Homo sapiens: one gene and its partner. The protein of the gene in region 1 interacts with the protein of each later gene in a pairwise test. Each region holds a gene or a part of one and is shown on either strand. Other genes may lie near its edges.

Region 1 (7,756 bases):
GTTAATTAATCCTGTGATTTCCAAGAAACAGGACAACATAGTTTATTCTGTAAAGAATCACAGGCATATTGTGTTAGGGAATCACTCAGCAGCAGCGAGACCACAATTAACTCCTATAAATGGGCAAAGCAAATAGCTGCAAGCAAATTTATTAAAAACCAGCTGTTAATTAGCAGCAATAGTTCCAGCAAAATAGACTGCAGCAAAAAATGTACTAAAAAAAAAAAGCAATGGCGATTCACTGCCATGGTAACTCTGTTTATACTTTTTGAGAAGTTAATGAGAAGACCCCTTGATATCATTCATTGAAAATGAGAATAAATGGAATTGGTGAGAATGGATGATTGTCCCTGTTATAAAGGCTTATTAATTGTCTACCCAGGGTTAACATTTTAGTAGGGGAATGAAAATGGTAAGGCGAAGGTATAATGAATGGTTCTGCAAAGAGCAAGGCAGAAAAATCAATCAAACTATTATGATTCAGATAGGAAATAAAGGTTCCACCTGGCATTTCACCACCAAGGATGGTGAAGGGCAGATCCAAAAATTATTTAGGAAGAAAATTTGACAGGTCTCTCAATGACCAGCTGAATGGGGAGGAACTGGGTACACACAGATATGAAGATGAGAACAGTAGGCCAGGCACGGTGGCTCACTCCTGTAATCCCAGTACTTTGGGAGGCCGAGGCAGGTGGATCACTTGAGGTCAGGAGTTCAGGACCAGCCCGGCCAACATGGTGAAATCCCGTCTCTACTAAAAATACAAAAAAAATTAGCCGGGCATGGTGGTGTGCACCTGTAATCCCAGCTACTCAGGAGACTGAGGCAGGAGAATCACTTGAACCCAGGAGGCAGAGGTTGCAGTGAGCCGAGATCACGCCACTGCACTCCAGCCTGGGTGACAGAGTAAGACCCTGTCTCAAAAAAAAAAAAAAAAAAAAATGAGAACAGTAGACACTGGTCTCAAACTCTTGGCCTCAAATGATCCTCCCCCCCTCAGTTTCCCAAAGTGTTGGGATTACAGGGTGAGTCACTGGCCTAATTTTTCTAATATAAAGATATTTCTGGCTGGATGTGGTGGTTCACATCTGTAATCCCGGAACTTTGAGAGGCTGAGGTGGGCAGATCACAAGGTCAGGAGTTCGAGACCAGCCTGACCAACATGATGAAACTTCGTCTTGACTAAAAATACAAAAAAAATTAGCCAGGCATGGTGGCACGCGCCTGTAATCACAGATACTCAGGAGGCTAAGGCAGGAGAATCACTTGAACCCGGGAGGCGGAGGTTCCAGTGAGCTGAGATCGAGCCACTGCACTCCAGCCTGGGTGACAGAGTGAGACGCCTTCTCAAAAAAAAAAAAAAAAAAAGATATTTCTTAGACAAACAGCACTATAATAAATCATTGCTGCATATGTGTTCAATATTGGTCTTCCCAAATAATACTTCATACTTTCTTTCTTGTATTATAGTATCACCCATAATGATTCCTTTAATTTAGCATTTATTTACTTTCCTTTTTTTTTTCTAGACCTGTTGGAACAAGCCTCGCATGTCACTAACACAAATATTAGTATTCCCAGGTTATGTACCTGCTCCCTGGAATTGAGGTTAACAGAAAAAAATAACATATCAATCTGACCATTCCCCCAACCTCCAAAACAATCATATTCACAATTTTGTCTCAACACACATCTGTAATTGCTGCAATTGTGTGTCTTGAATGACTACATTTGTCTGTCTTGTTTCTATCTGACTTTAAGGGTCTCAAGGGATTTTCTGATATTCAAAAAGCATTTGTTGAGAAGGGGGCAGGAAAACAATATGATAGATAAAAGAATCACATGAAGACAGTCAGATCTGGGTTTGAATCCTGGTTCCCCTTCTTCTGGTTGTATCATCTAAGCCTCAAGATGTCCCTCATCTGTGAAATAAGAACCTCACAGGAGCAGTGTAAAGGTCAGTTAAGACAATGCATATAAAGTGCTTAGTGGAGTGCTTGTCTTTCAGCAACCTCTCAAAAAACATTATAAACCAGCTTCCAAATAGCTTTGTGCAGTCTCCCTCTTAAATGCAAACAGACAACCAAAGATAATCTGAGGAAAGCTTCTAATATGATAGACAAGAGGCTAAAAAAGAGAAAAAGGAACTTGAAGGAAACAGAGACAATATCACCAGTATGCTCAGAGATATAAAAGACAGGCTGGGTGTGGTGGCTCACACTTGGAATCCCGACACTTTGGAAGGCCGAGAAAGGAGGATTTCTTGAGCCCAGGAGCTTAAGACCAGCATGGACAACACAGTAACACCCCTGTCTTTACAAAAAATACAAAAATTAGCCTGGCATGGTAGCTTGTGCCTGTAGTCCTAACTACTTGGGAGGCTGAGGTGGGAAGATTGCCTGAGCCCAAGGGGTTAAAGTTGCAGTGAGCCGAGATCATGCCACTGCACTCCAGCCTGGGACAGAGTAAGACCCTGTCACACACACACAAAAAAAAACCAACAACAACAACAACAAAAAACCAACAACAACAAAAAAAAACGTACTGCACCCATGAAAAATACCAAAGGAATATTTAATAAATGGGAAGCATTCTGGAAATTATGTCATTTTTCATTAGGTAAGCAAAAAATGCAGATTTGGAAGATAAATTTGAGGAAATCTTCCAGAACTAGAATAAAATAACAGTGATTTTAAAAGAAATACAAGAAATGTAGATAAATCCAGGTTAATATCTAACTACTCCCCAGTATAACAGTGAAAAAGTCCTAAGATGTCGTTTATGCCAGAGGCCTAGAGCAGGGGTCCCTACCACGAACTAGGTACGGGTCTGTGGCCTGTTAGGAACCAGGCTGCACAGCAGGAAGTGAGCAGTGGGAGGGCGAGCATTATGGCCTGAGCCCTGCCTCCTACAGCGTTAGATTTTCATAGGAGGGTGACCCCTATCGTGAAGTGCTCATGCCAGGGATCTAGGTTGCATGCTCCTTATGAGAATCTAACGCCTGATGATGTGAGGTGGAACAGTTTCATCCTGAAATGATCCATTTCCCGATCCATCCACCCCACCCCACGCAACCCTGGTCTGTGGAAAAATGGTCTTCCATAAAACCAGTCTCTAGCGCCAAAAAGGTTGAGGACTGCTGGCCTAGAGAGAAACCATTCCAAAGTGGAGCAGGACACTTGTGGGCTCCAGGGGAGGAAAGGAACTGATGAATTACGAATGTGTTTAACTGTTTGAGGGGGATTTTTGAGAGCTAACAGAAAAGCCTAAGAATAATAATGATACATACATTGGTGGGGAATGAGGGAAGGTGGGGGGAGGACCAAACAAAATTAGTAATTATTAACACAAGAAAAAATTTTTTTAAAGGAAATGTGATGGGCCAGGCATGGTGGTTCACGCCTGTAATCCCAGCACTTTGGGAGGCCAATGCAGACGGATCATCAGGTCAGGAGTTCGAGACCAGCCTGACCAACATGGTGAAACCTCGTCTCTACTAAAAAATACAAAAAAATTAGCTAGGCACGGTGGCGCGCACCTGTAATCCCAGCTACTCAGGAGGCTGAGGCAGGAGAATGGCTTGAACCCAGGAGGCAGAGGTTGCAGTGAGCTGAGATTGTGACACTGTACTCCAGCCTGGGTGACAGAGTGAGACTCTGTCTCAAAAAAAAAAAAAAAAAGGAAATGTGATGATAATAATATAGGGCTCAGCTGCTAACATTGTTTACTAAGTTATAACACTGAATTCCGATCTAACTGTGATAGAGCTGACTGGGAAACAGAAAGATGGAAAGACGTTGAAAGGGTAGGTAAGTGTGCTTCCGAGAGGACGTGTTAAAACAGCTAAATCCTCACCTACCATATCAATAAGCTAGTAGATAGAGTCTGTAATGAAAAAGATAAAAGAACAGTTGAAAGAATGTTACTGAATAATAAAATACCACTTTGTACCCACTAGGAAGACTATAACAAAAAGACAGACAAAAGCTAGGTGCAGTGGCTCATGCCTGTAATCCCATCAACTTGGGAGGTGGAGGTGGGAGGATCACTTGAGGCCAGGAGTTCACGACCAGCCTGGGCCATACAGCGAGACCCAGTCTCTACAAAAAATAAAATTAGCTGGGCATGATGGTGTGGGCCTTTGTCTCAGCTACTTGGGATGCTCATACTGGGGATCATCTGAGCCCAGGAGTTCAAGGTTCCAGTGAGCTATGATTGTACTACTGCACTGGCCTGGGCAACAGAGTGAAACCCTGTCTCTAAAAATATTTTTCTAAAAAAATCAGACAGACAATAACAAGTGCTGATGCTATTCACAACAGCAAAGACATGGTAACAACCCAGCCCATCAGCAGTGGATTGGATACAGAAAATATGTTACACATACACCATGGAATACTACACAGCCATAAAAAAGAATGAAATCATGTCCTTTGCAACAATATGGATACAGCTGGAAGCCATTATCCTAAGCAAACTAAAGCAGAAACGGAAAACCAAACATCATATGTTCTCACTTACAAGTGGGAACTAAACACTGGGTACACATGGAAATAAAGATGAGAACAACAGACACTGGAGAATATAAGAGGGAGAGTGGAGGGAGGAGGGCAAGGGTTGAAAACCTACCTATTGGGTACTATGCTCATTACCTGGGTGATGAGTTCAATCATACCCCAAACCCCAGCTCACACAATATACCCTTTTTTTTTTTTTTGAGATAGAATTTTGGTCTTGTTGCTCAGGCTGGAGTGCAATGACGCAATCTCAGCTCACTACAACCTCCGCCTCCCAAGTTCAAGCAATTCTCCTGCCTCAGCCTCCCAAGTAGTTGGGACTACAGGCACGCAAAACCATGCCCGGCTAATTTTTGTATTTTTAGTAGAGACAAGGTTTCACCATGTTGGCCAGGCTGGTCTCGAACCACTGACCTTAGGTGATCCACCTGCTTCGGCCTCCCAAAATGCTGGCTGGGATTACAGGTGTGAGCCACGGCGCCTGGCATACCCTTGTAACAAACCTGCGCATATACTCCTTGAATTTAAAATAAAAGTTGAAAAAATAAATAAATAAATAAATAAGAAAAACCCAGAAGCAGTGTAAAGAGCAAAAACAAAAAACTTGCAGTTCAGAGCTGGAGATAATGTCTTTGAGCCAAAAGCCAATCACTTTATGATTATAATGTAGAACAGCTTAAAATGATTTTTCCCCCTAAAGTTGAAATAAAGATGTTAAAAAAATCCATCACTTAAAATGAAAGGCATTATATAAAATTATATCTAGATCAGTGAGCAAAAAGATTACGTAACTTTGAGAGACTGTAATGTGCAGATTCACCCACAATACATGTCCACTGTCCTCAATGAGTCACTGGCAAGTACAGTTCTGTAACTATGCTCATCTGTTACAGGTAAATTCTCCAACTGTCTATTGTCCAATTATAACAGCTTCAAATTCACAATTTAGAACCTGTAACCTCCAGTGATTTTGTCAATTGTTAAGCCATGTCACCCATACAGATGCCTCCCCTATGGGACAAAGGAGAAGATGACCTAAAATTGACAAATTTCCCTTAAGGGAAAGGTTGTAAAACCGGGCATAAACTTAGTAAAATCAGGGTCCACTGTCCGTAAGACTAGTTTGTTTTTCGTATAGAAAGGAAGTTCTTTTAGTAATTGCAGAGAAGATTGAATTACAGACTCACTTAAAAAAAAAAACTAGCAGAAATAACTCTGATTCAATTAGCCATTTTGTTTCATTTTTTTAATTCTTCAAAGACCTCCAAGTGATATCATGAAGCCTCATCTTAATATCTAACCAAGTTTGTACTGAAAAAAGACCAGCCATTAGAAAACAGCTTGCAAAATTATTTTACGAACTACTGGATTGGCATGTTATTTATCAAACTTATGTGCTTCATCAAAAAGATTCAATGTTCAGATTATTTTTTTGAGATGAGGTCTTGCTACGTTGCACAGGTTGGACCAAAACTCTTGGGCTCAAGCAATCTGCCCACCTCAGCCTCCCAAGTAGCTGGGACTACAGGTGCACACCACCACACCTGGCTAAATGCTCGGATTTAAGCAAAATTACTCATTGGCTGATATGATGAAGCCAACACAAACAACAATAATGTATCTCAACAGTTATATAACACATAAGAAAAATGGACTGTAAATTTAGGAGCTAAAGCTGTAAAAAAAAAAAAAAAAACTGACGATAGCTCTTAAATTCCAATAAACACAACCTGAGCAACTCTTTCAAATAGCAGTGGCCTCTTTTTTAATTTTTCTTCTCTTTCTTCTAGTTCTCGTTGGTATTCTCTCATCCTTTCCTTTTCGCTCTTTCTAAAATTAAAGAAAAGCAATGGAATTTTAAAAGATCATCTAAGAAATAAGAACTTACATATGTAACATTTAACTTATCAACTTGTACAAAGTCAATGAAAAAAAAGAAATAACATTTAGCTTAGCTGACAAATCAGAAATTATAAGCACAGTTCACAGTTTACCTCGATTCCTCTTCTATACCGGTTAATTCTCATGGAATGCAGAATAAAATCCTAGGTTCTGAGATCACACATATTATGCTCTAGGAATAGTCTGGACACTTTAATTTCTGAAATCCTCAAGGCATAAATATTTTAAGGGACTTCAAACTGCCCTGAAAAGATGAATGAAAGTCCTCTTGTCTCATTTATAAGTGTATAAAACCAAGAAAATTTTGGAACAAATTAGCTATCTTCTCTGTAAGGAATTTCTCCTGAAAACAAGACTTTGCTCTTATTTTTTATTATTATTTTATTGTTGTTGTTATTTACTTTTGTTTTGAGATGGAGTCTCATTCTGTTGCTCAGGCTGGTGCGGTGGCACAATCTCAGCTCACTGCAACTTCTACCTCCTGGGTTCATGCAATTCTCGTGCCTCAGCTTCCCGAATAGCTGAGATTACAGGTGTGCACCACCATGCCTGGCTAATTTTCTGTATTTTTAGTAGAGATGAGGGTTTCACCATGTTGGCCAGGCTGGTCTTGAACTCCTGACCTCAGGTGATCTGCCTGTCTTGGCCTCTCAAAGTGCTGGGATTACAGGCATGAGCCATTGCGCCTGGCCTATTAATTTTGAGACAGGTTCTCACTTTGTTGTCCAGGCTGGAGTGCAGTGGTGCAATCATGGCTGACTGCAGCTTTGACTTCCTGGGCTCAAATGATCCTCCCACCTTAGCTCTCGAGTAGGTGGAACTACAGGGGCATGCCACCACACCTGGCTAATTTTTTTAAATTTTTTGTAGAGATGGGGGTCTCATTATGTTTACCAGGCTGGTCTCAAACTCCTGGGCTCAAGCAATCTTCCTGCCTTGTACTCCTGAGGTGTTGGGATTACAGATGTGAGCCATGGCATCCAGCCTTTGCTGTTATTTTTTTCCCCTAAATAAGATCTCCTACAGGTTAGTGGCAAAGTTAATTCAATGGGAGCAAGTCAAAGGAGAAGTAAAGAGCATGGGAATACAACATAAAGAGAAACAGGAACCAAAATATATAAATTTACCGTAAGTGTTCTCACTGTTTGAGCAAGATCCTATAATAAATTAAACTACACTATTTTCTCTATGTAAGATATAATTGCTACCAAGATAAATAAGATTAATGGATTGGGGAAAATAATTATACTTTTAAATGATAATTAGGCTTAATTATACACAAGTTGGTGTTATGAAAAAGCTATTGTCCAGGCACGGTGGCTCACGCCTGTAATCCC
Region 2 (7,378 bases), on another chromosome or scaffold:
TATCTTGTTTTGCTAAATCAGCTATATGAATCCCAGGGGCTTCTCTGAAGAAGGAGGAGGTTTCTGAACATACTCTTTTTATGTACACTGGGTCTTTACAGTTTCTTTTGTGCTTGATGTTCATAGCGTAGAACATTTTAGAAGATTGTTTAGATCTTCAGTGCTTCAGAAGAAAACCAATAATTTAAATAAACATACCTAAGAAGGACACTAAGTTTTTGTGTTCCTGTAGATACCAAAGGACTGAGCAAGATAAAATAACACACATGGCATTTCAAGAACATCAAATAAAGTTCTAAATAAAAATCTTTATAGAAATAAAATTCTAAATAGAGTTTTTATAGAATTCATAGACTCATCATTATTATTATTGTTTATGGTTATTGATTTAATGAGAAATCACAAATATATCCCTGATTTAATGAAAAATCGCAAATTTTTCCAGGTAATTGACATTGAAGAAAAATCAACTATACTGAGATATAGTTAACATAGAGTAAAATTATCCAATTTTAAGGGCACAATTTGATGAGTTCTGATGTATATATACACTTAGGTAAACCTCTCCATAATCAAAATATAGAAGATTTTTATCACTCCAAAAAGTTCCTACATGCCCCTTTGAAATCAATCTCTTCCTTCTACTCTCAGCCTCTAACATTCACTGACATGTTTTATTTCACTTTAAATGTGTCTTTTCTAAATTTTTGTCTAAGTGATAGCATACATTATGTAGTGTTTTGTGTCTTCTGGTTTTTTTCACTTAGCATAATTTTTTTTTTTTTTGAGATGGAGTCTCGCTCTGTTGCCCAGGCTGGAGTGCAGTGGTGCCATCTCTGCTCACTGCAAGCTCTGCCTCCAGGGTTCATGCCATTCTCCTGCCTCAGCCTCCCGAGTAGCTGGGACTACAGGCGCCTGCCACCATGCCCGGCTAATTTTTTTATATTTTCAGTAGAGACGGGGTTTCACCCTGTTAGCCAGGATGGTCTCGATCTCCTGACCTCGTGATCTGCCCGCCTCAGCCTCCCAAAGTGCTGGGATTACAGGTATGAGCCACTGCGCCAGGCCGCATAATGCTTTTTGAGCACTTATGTTGTTCCATGTATCAATAATCATGATTATTTATTCAGTTTACTTATTCATTTCCCAGTTGATGGACATGGGGTAGTCCATGGTAGTTTTATCCATCCTGCAATTAGTGAAAATCCCAGTTTCTCTATATCCTTTCCAAAACTTGATATTGTCAATCTTTTTAATTTAAACCATTTTATTGAATGTATAGTAGTATCTTATTGTGGTTTTAATTTGTATATCTCTTGTTTTGGTGGGAGGGTGGGACAGAGTCTCACTCTGATGTCCAGGCTAGAGTACAGTGGTGCATCTCAACTCACTGCAACCTCTGCCTCCGAAGCTCAAGTGATTCTTGCGCCTCAGACTCCCCAGTAGCTGGAATTACAGGCGCGCACTGCCATGCCTAGCTAATTTTTGTATTTTTAGTAGAGATGAGGTTTTGCCATGTTGGCCAGGCTGATCTTGAACTCCTGGCCTTAAGTGATCCATCCACCTCAGCCTCCTAAAGTGTTGAAATTACAGGCATGAGCCGTGGTGCCCGGCTGCATATCCCTAATGAGCAATCCTGTTGAGCGTCCTTTCAGGTGCTTCCTTGCCATTCATATATTTTTTTGGTTGTGTTCAAACTTTTGTCTATATTTTTGTTAAATTGTTGTATTATTAAGTTGTAAAGGATACAAATCCTTTATCAGATATATGTTTCTTAAATATTTTTTCTCACTCCATGGCTTGCCTTTTCAATTTATTTTTATTTATTTATTTTTTTGAGATGGAGTCTCACTCTGTCACCCAGGCTGGAGTGTGGTGCAATCTCGGCTCACTGCAAGCTCCGCCTCCCAGGTTCACGCCATTCTCCTGCCTCAGCCTCCCAAATAGCTGGGACTACAGGTGCCCGCCACCACGCCCGGCTAATTTTTTTGCATTTTTAGTAGAGATGGGGTTTCACCATGTTAGCCAGGATGGTCTCGATCACCTGACCTCGTGATCTGCCCGCCTCGGCCTCCCAAAGTACTGGGATTACAGGCGTGAGCCACCGCACCTGGCCATCTCTGGCTAATTTTAGGACTTGCTTTTTGTCACTTGCTTCCATCAATTTGATTATACGTGGTCTTGGTGTGATTTTCTTTGTATTTATTCTGCTTGTGCGTCATTGAGCTGCTTGGATCTAAGGGTTTATAATTTTCATCAAATTTTGAATAATATCAGCTGGTATTTCTTCAAATACTTTTTTACCAACCCCTTTTCTCCTCTCCTTCTTGGAGTCTAATTTTACATATTTTAGACAACTTGATATTGTCAAGTTGTCTCATGTCATCGATATTCAGTACTTTTTTAGCCTTTTTTCACCTCACACTTTATTTTAAATGGTTTCTATTGTTATTCAAGTTCTCATCTTTTCTTCTGCATGGTCTAACCTTCTGTTAATATTGTTCAAGATATTTTCATTTTATATACATTTCATTTCTAGAAGTTTCATTTGGGTCTTTTTATATCTTTCTTATCTCTTCTCACCATGTTCATGCCTTCCTCTACATTCTTGAAAAAATGGAAGACATTTATCCATTTTAATATCCTTGTCTGCTAATTCTATCATCATTGTCATTTCTGGGCCTGATTTTATTGTTTGATTGTTCTCCTGAGAGTCATATTTTCCTGCTGCTTTGTATGGCTAGTAATCTTTTTCTTTTTAATGGGCTTTATTTTTTAGGACACTTTTAGATTTTTTAATTTTACAGAAAAACTGAGAAGATAGTATAGAGTTTTTTATATGCCCCATCCTCACTTTTCTCTATTATTAACATCTTAGATTTAACATTTTTAACAACTAATGAACCAAATTGATACATTATTAACTGAAATCCATAGTTCCTTTAGATTTTCTTAGTTTTTACCTAATGTCATTTTTCTGTTTTAGGTTTCCATCTAAGGTGCCACATTACACTAAGTTGTCATTTTCTTTAGGTGCCCCTTGGCTGTGACAGTTTCTCAGGCTTGCCTTATTTTTTATGACTTAGATAGTTTTGAGGAGTACTGGTCATATATTTTGTAAGGATGCTGCACTATTGCAATTTGTTTGATGTTTTCCTCATAAAATTTGGGTTATTAATTGGGAGAGGAAGACAGTAGCATTAAAGTGTCATTGTCATCACATCACATTAAGTGTTCATACCGTCAACATGATTTATGACTATTGATGTTGACTTTAATCACCTGGCTGAGGAAGTGTCTGTCAGGTTTCTCCACTGTACTCTTTTTCCCTCCTTCTATACTTGTATACTTTGGAAGGCAGTCATTGTGCACAGCCCACGCTTAAGGAGGGGATAGTTATGCTCCCTCTCCCTGAGGGTAGTGTATTAATGTAAATTATTTGAAATTTTGCTGCCCTGGAGATTTGTCTCTTCTGGTTGGTAATTTTTTACTGGATGCCAAATATGATGAATTTCATATTGTTTGTACTGATGAATTCATATTGGTGAATTTTGTATTTGCTGGATTTTGTTGTAGTTCTTTCAGTTCTATTGAATTTAACTCTGGCATGCAGTTAACATGGTATGACATCATTTTGTTCCTTCTGAGGCTTAAATAAAGCCTAGTTAGAGTGGCTCAAGAGCAGCCTTTAATCTAGGGCTAACTTAGCCCATTTTCTAAAGTAATATACCCTTCTGATTACCCTACCTGACGTTGACATATTACGACATTTTTCCATTCTGGTTGGCAAGATTGAAAATTATTCCCAGCCTTGTGTGAGCTCCAGAAATTGTTCAGTCTATTGATTTCTGGAGGTTCTTTCTCTGGCCTTGACGAGTTTCACTGCATGCATGTGCAGATTAGTACTCAGCCACAGCCTTGAGAGAATCCCTTTGTAGATGTTTGTAAGTTTCTGTGAAGTTCCCTCCTCTGTGTTACTCTGCTTAGCAAATTGTAGCTGCCTTGGTATGACAGAGTTTTTCTTCCTGTATACTTTGCTCTGTAAAGCCAAACTTCACTTCTAGCAATCTTTTAAAATGCAAACTGATTTTTAAATTTTTGGTATAATTTTACATCAAGAAAACCAAATGAGATTTATTTAATATATGACTATTTATTAATAATGTATTATTTATCCATATACTCTCCCTCTATACAGAGTGGGAAATTGTTTTTCTATGGTAACTGTGGTCAGACCTTTGTAAAATATATTCCATACTTTTTATTTCTAAGTCTTTGCTTATTTTGTAGATCCATATATTCTCCTTTTCTGCCAGCCTTATAAATTAGGCTGTTGCTTTAGAGCAGGAGCTGGCACTTTTCTGTAAAGGTTTGAAGAGTAAATATTTTAGGCCTTGCAGGTGTATGGTCTTTGTTGCTGCTACTTAACTCTGCTCTTGTAGTGAAAAAGAAGCTACAGACAACATATAAATGAATGGTCATAAATGTGCTCCAATAAAACTTTACTTACAAAGTAGGCAGTGGGTCAGATTTGACCTGTTGGTTGTAGTTTGCCTACTCTAGCTTAGGGAATTTTTCAATTTAAAATATTTGCATGAACAAATGCCCAAATAATGTGGAGTGAACCATATGGGGAAAAAGCATTCTAGGACAAGGGAAGAAATTATAAGGACCCTGAAGTAGGAATGATCTTCATTATGTTCAAGGAACTGCCAAAAGACAAGGGTGGATGAATCAAAGTAAATGAGGGAAAGTGTGGTAGGAGATGAAGTAGAGAGGTAGGTAAATCATGTGGCTCTTTTTTCCTCTATAAGGACTCTGGATTTTATCTCAGATGTGATGGTAAACATAAGAGTATGCTGAGCAGGGAAATGGCTTGATCTCATTCATGATATGTGTAGAATAGGGTGCAGATGGGCAAGAGAGGAAACAGAAGAGTAAAAAGCTATTGCAGTAGTTCCAGGCCAGTGATATTTCTGGAAGTAGTCAGAAGTGTTTGGGCACAAGATATATTTTGAAGGTGGAGCTGACAGAACTTTTCGTTATATGAACGTGGCATGAGAAGGAAAGAGAGGACAAAAAGCTGACTCATGGGAATCTTCAGAGCCAGTGCAGGCTGAACTAGCTAGAGATGTGTCAGAGGCTTAGCAAAGAGAGCAGAGTGGGATTCCAAAACGTTGCTAAAAAGTCTTTATGGTACCTCCAAAGAAAACCCAGTCCTCACATCAGAAAGATTAACAACCCAAAGTGAATGGGGATATGTAAGGGGATAGGGATTTAGCCTATATGGAAAAATTCAAGATTCTTAATTCTTCAAAGCCTCTTGTTGGAAAGAGAAGTCCCTGGGATAATGGAAAAGACTCAGGCTTTTCTGAGAAGATAGAGTTAGACTAGAGTTCATGACTAGCCTGGCCAACATGGTGAAATCCTGTCTCTACTAAAATTACAAAAAATATCAGCTGAGCGTGGTGGTGCATGCCTGTAATCCTAGCTACTCAGGAGGCTGAAGCAGGAGAATTGCTTGAACCCAGGAGGCGGAGGTTGCAGTGAGCCGAGGTTGTGCCACTGCACTCCAGCCTGGGGGACAGAGCAAGAATCTATCTCAAAAAAAACAAAACAAAACAAACAAACAAACAAAAAAAAAACAGAGAGAGAGAAACTAGATTGATTCTGCTTCCAAGGATAAATAAATCCAATAACAACAAATGCATGCATACATGTATCTGTGTCCATGGTGTGCACACACATAGCTATTAGGTCTCCTTTATCAAATTTCATGTCAAGGTCCAATGATCTCACATCTGGAATTTGTGTCATCCTCTTGCTGGTCAGCTTTCAACCTCTCTTCATTTAGTTTAGATATTCTTTTTTATACTGCTGCCCTTTGAATTGTCTAAACCAATGCTTGTAAAATTATCTGTGATGAAGGGCCAATCAAAAAAATCTCAATCTGTCATGGACTGATACTTTTGTAGAATACAATATAAATTACTTGAAAAAGTAAAATTAAAAAAAGCAAAGATTACAAAGTACAAGCCCAATTTTGTAATTATTAGATTCAACTGACATAAAATTACTGTCAATTTGCTATGAAAGTTTTTAAAAGTTTACTGTTAATTTCTATACTATCTTTGTCCGAGACTGTTAACCACATGGTATGTGGACCACATTATGAGTAGCAATGACATAAACCACTCTAGATCTCAAAAATCTCATTATCTGTTAAACCAAAATAAACCTCTCACTATTGTCCTCTAAACTCTGTACCAGTTAGTTCAGTCTTGCCTGTGTCTAACAGGCAAGCTCTTGTGTTCTCTTCCACACAGGGGACTGTTTTTAATCCATTTCTTTCTTTCCGTTTATTCAAAACATCCTAAATACATCTCATGTATATACAACTGAATACTTACCTTCCTCAGAAAGCTTTCCTAGAACATCCTTACCTAATTTTTACCCCTTTGGCATTTGTATTTTCTTATATTTATTAGTATAGGTTTATATTATTTGTATTGTTTCCTTTAGTAGAGCATAAATTACTTCTGAGTAAACCCTGATTTTTACCCTAAATATAAAAATGTCTAGAATATAGTAACATGGATACCCAAACAATAAAAAGCATGTAAGTGGCCAGGTGCGGTGGCTCATGCCTGTAATCTCAGCACTTTGAGAGGCCTAGGCAGGTGGGTTGCTTGGGGCCAGGAGTTCAAGGCCAGTCTGGCCAACATGGCGAAACCCTGTCTCTACTAAAAAATTACAAAGATTAGCCAGGTGTGGTGGCACACACCTGTAATCCCAGCTATTTGGGGGGCTGAGGCACGAGAATTGCTTGAACCCAGGAAGCGGAGGTTGCAGTGAGCCGAGATCGCACCACTGCACTCCAGCCCTGGGCAACCTTGTCTGCCTCAAAAAAAAAAAAAAAAAAAAAAAAAAAAAAAGCATATAAGTAATTGCTTGCCTGTCTAAGAGTCTATGTGTATGGGGAGATAAAGTACTATTGAATATGAAATACTATCTTTTACTGTGGGAATTTGTGTTTACCCCCCTTTCTCCCATGCTCTGCTTTCTTTTATTTTCTTACTAGGCCTGTCTCCACTAACTCTGGACCCTAAAACAGCTCACCCAAATCTGGTGCTCTCCAAAAGCCAAACCAGCGTCTGGCATGGTGACATTAAGAAGATAATGCCTGATGATCCTGAGAGGTTTGACTCAAGTGTGGCTGTACTGGGCTCAAGAGGCTTCACCTCTGGAAAGTGGTACTGGGAAGTAGAAGTAGCAAAGAAGACAAAATGGACAGTTGGAGTTGTCAGAGAATCCATCATTCGGAAGGGCAGCTGTCCTCTAACTCCTGAGCAAGGATTCTGGCTTTTAAGACTAAGGA

What was found.
Region 2: the proteins of FAM161A (region 1) and TRIM69 interact in binary tests that used the Homo sapiens proteins (3 or more experiments, as listed by UniProt).

The regions. Positions count from the first base shown.
Region 1 is NC_000002.12:61,829,763-61,837,518, forward strand, and holds part of FAM161A (protein FAM161A), read right to left. Parts: intron 6,348-7,756; coding exon 6,248-6,347; intron 1-6,247. UniProt on the Homo sapiens protein: Involved in ciliogenesis.
Region 2 is NC_000015.10:44,760,150-44,767,527, forward strand, and holds part of TRIM69 (E3 ubiquitin-protein ligase TRIM69), read left to right. Parts: intron 1-7,081; coding exon 7,082-7,378.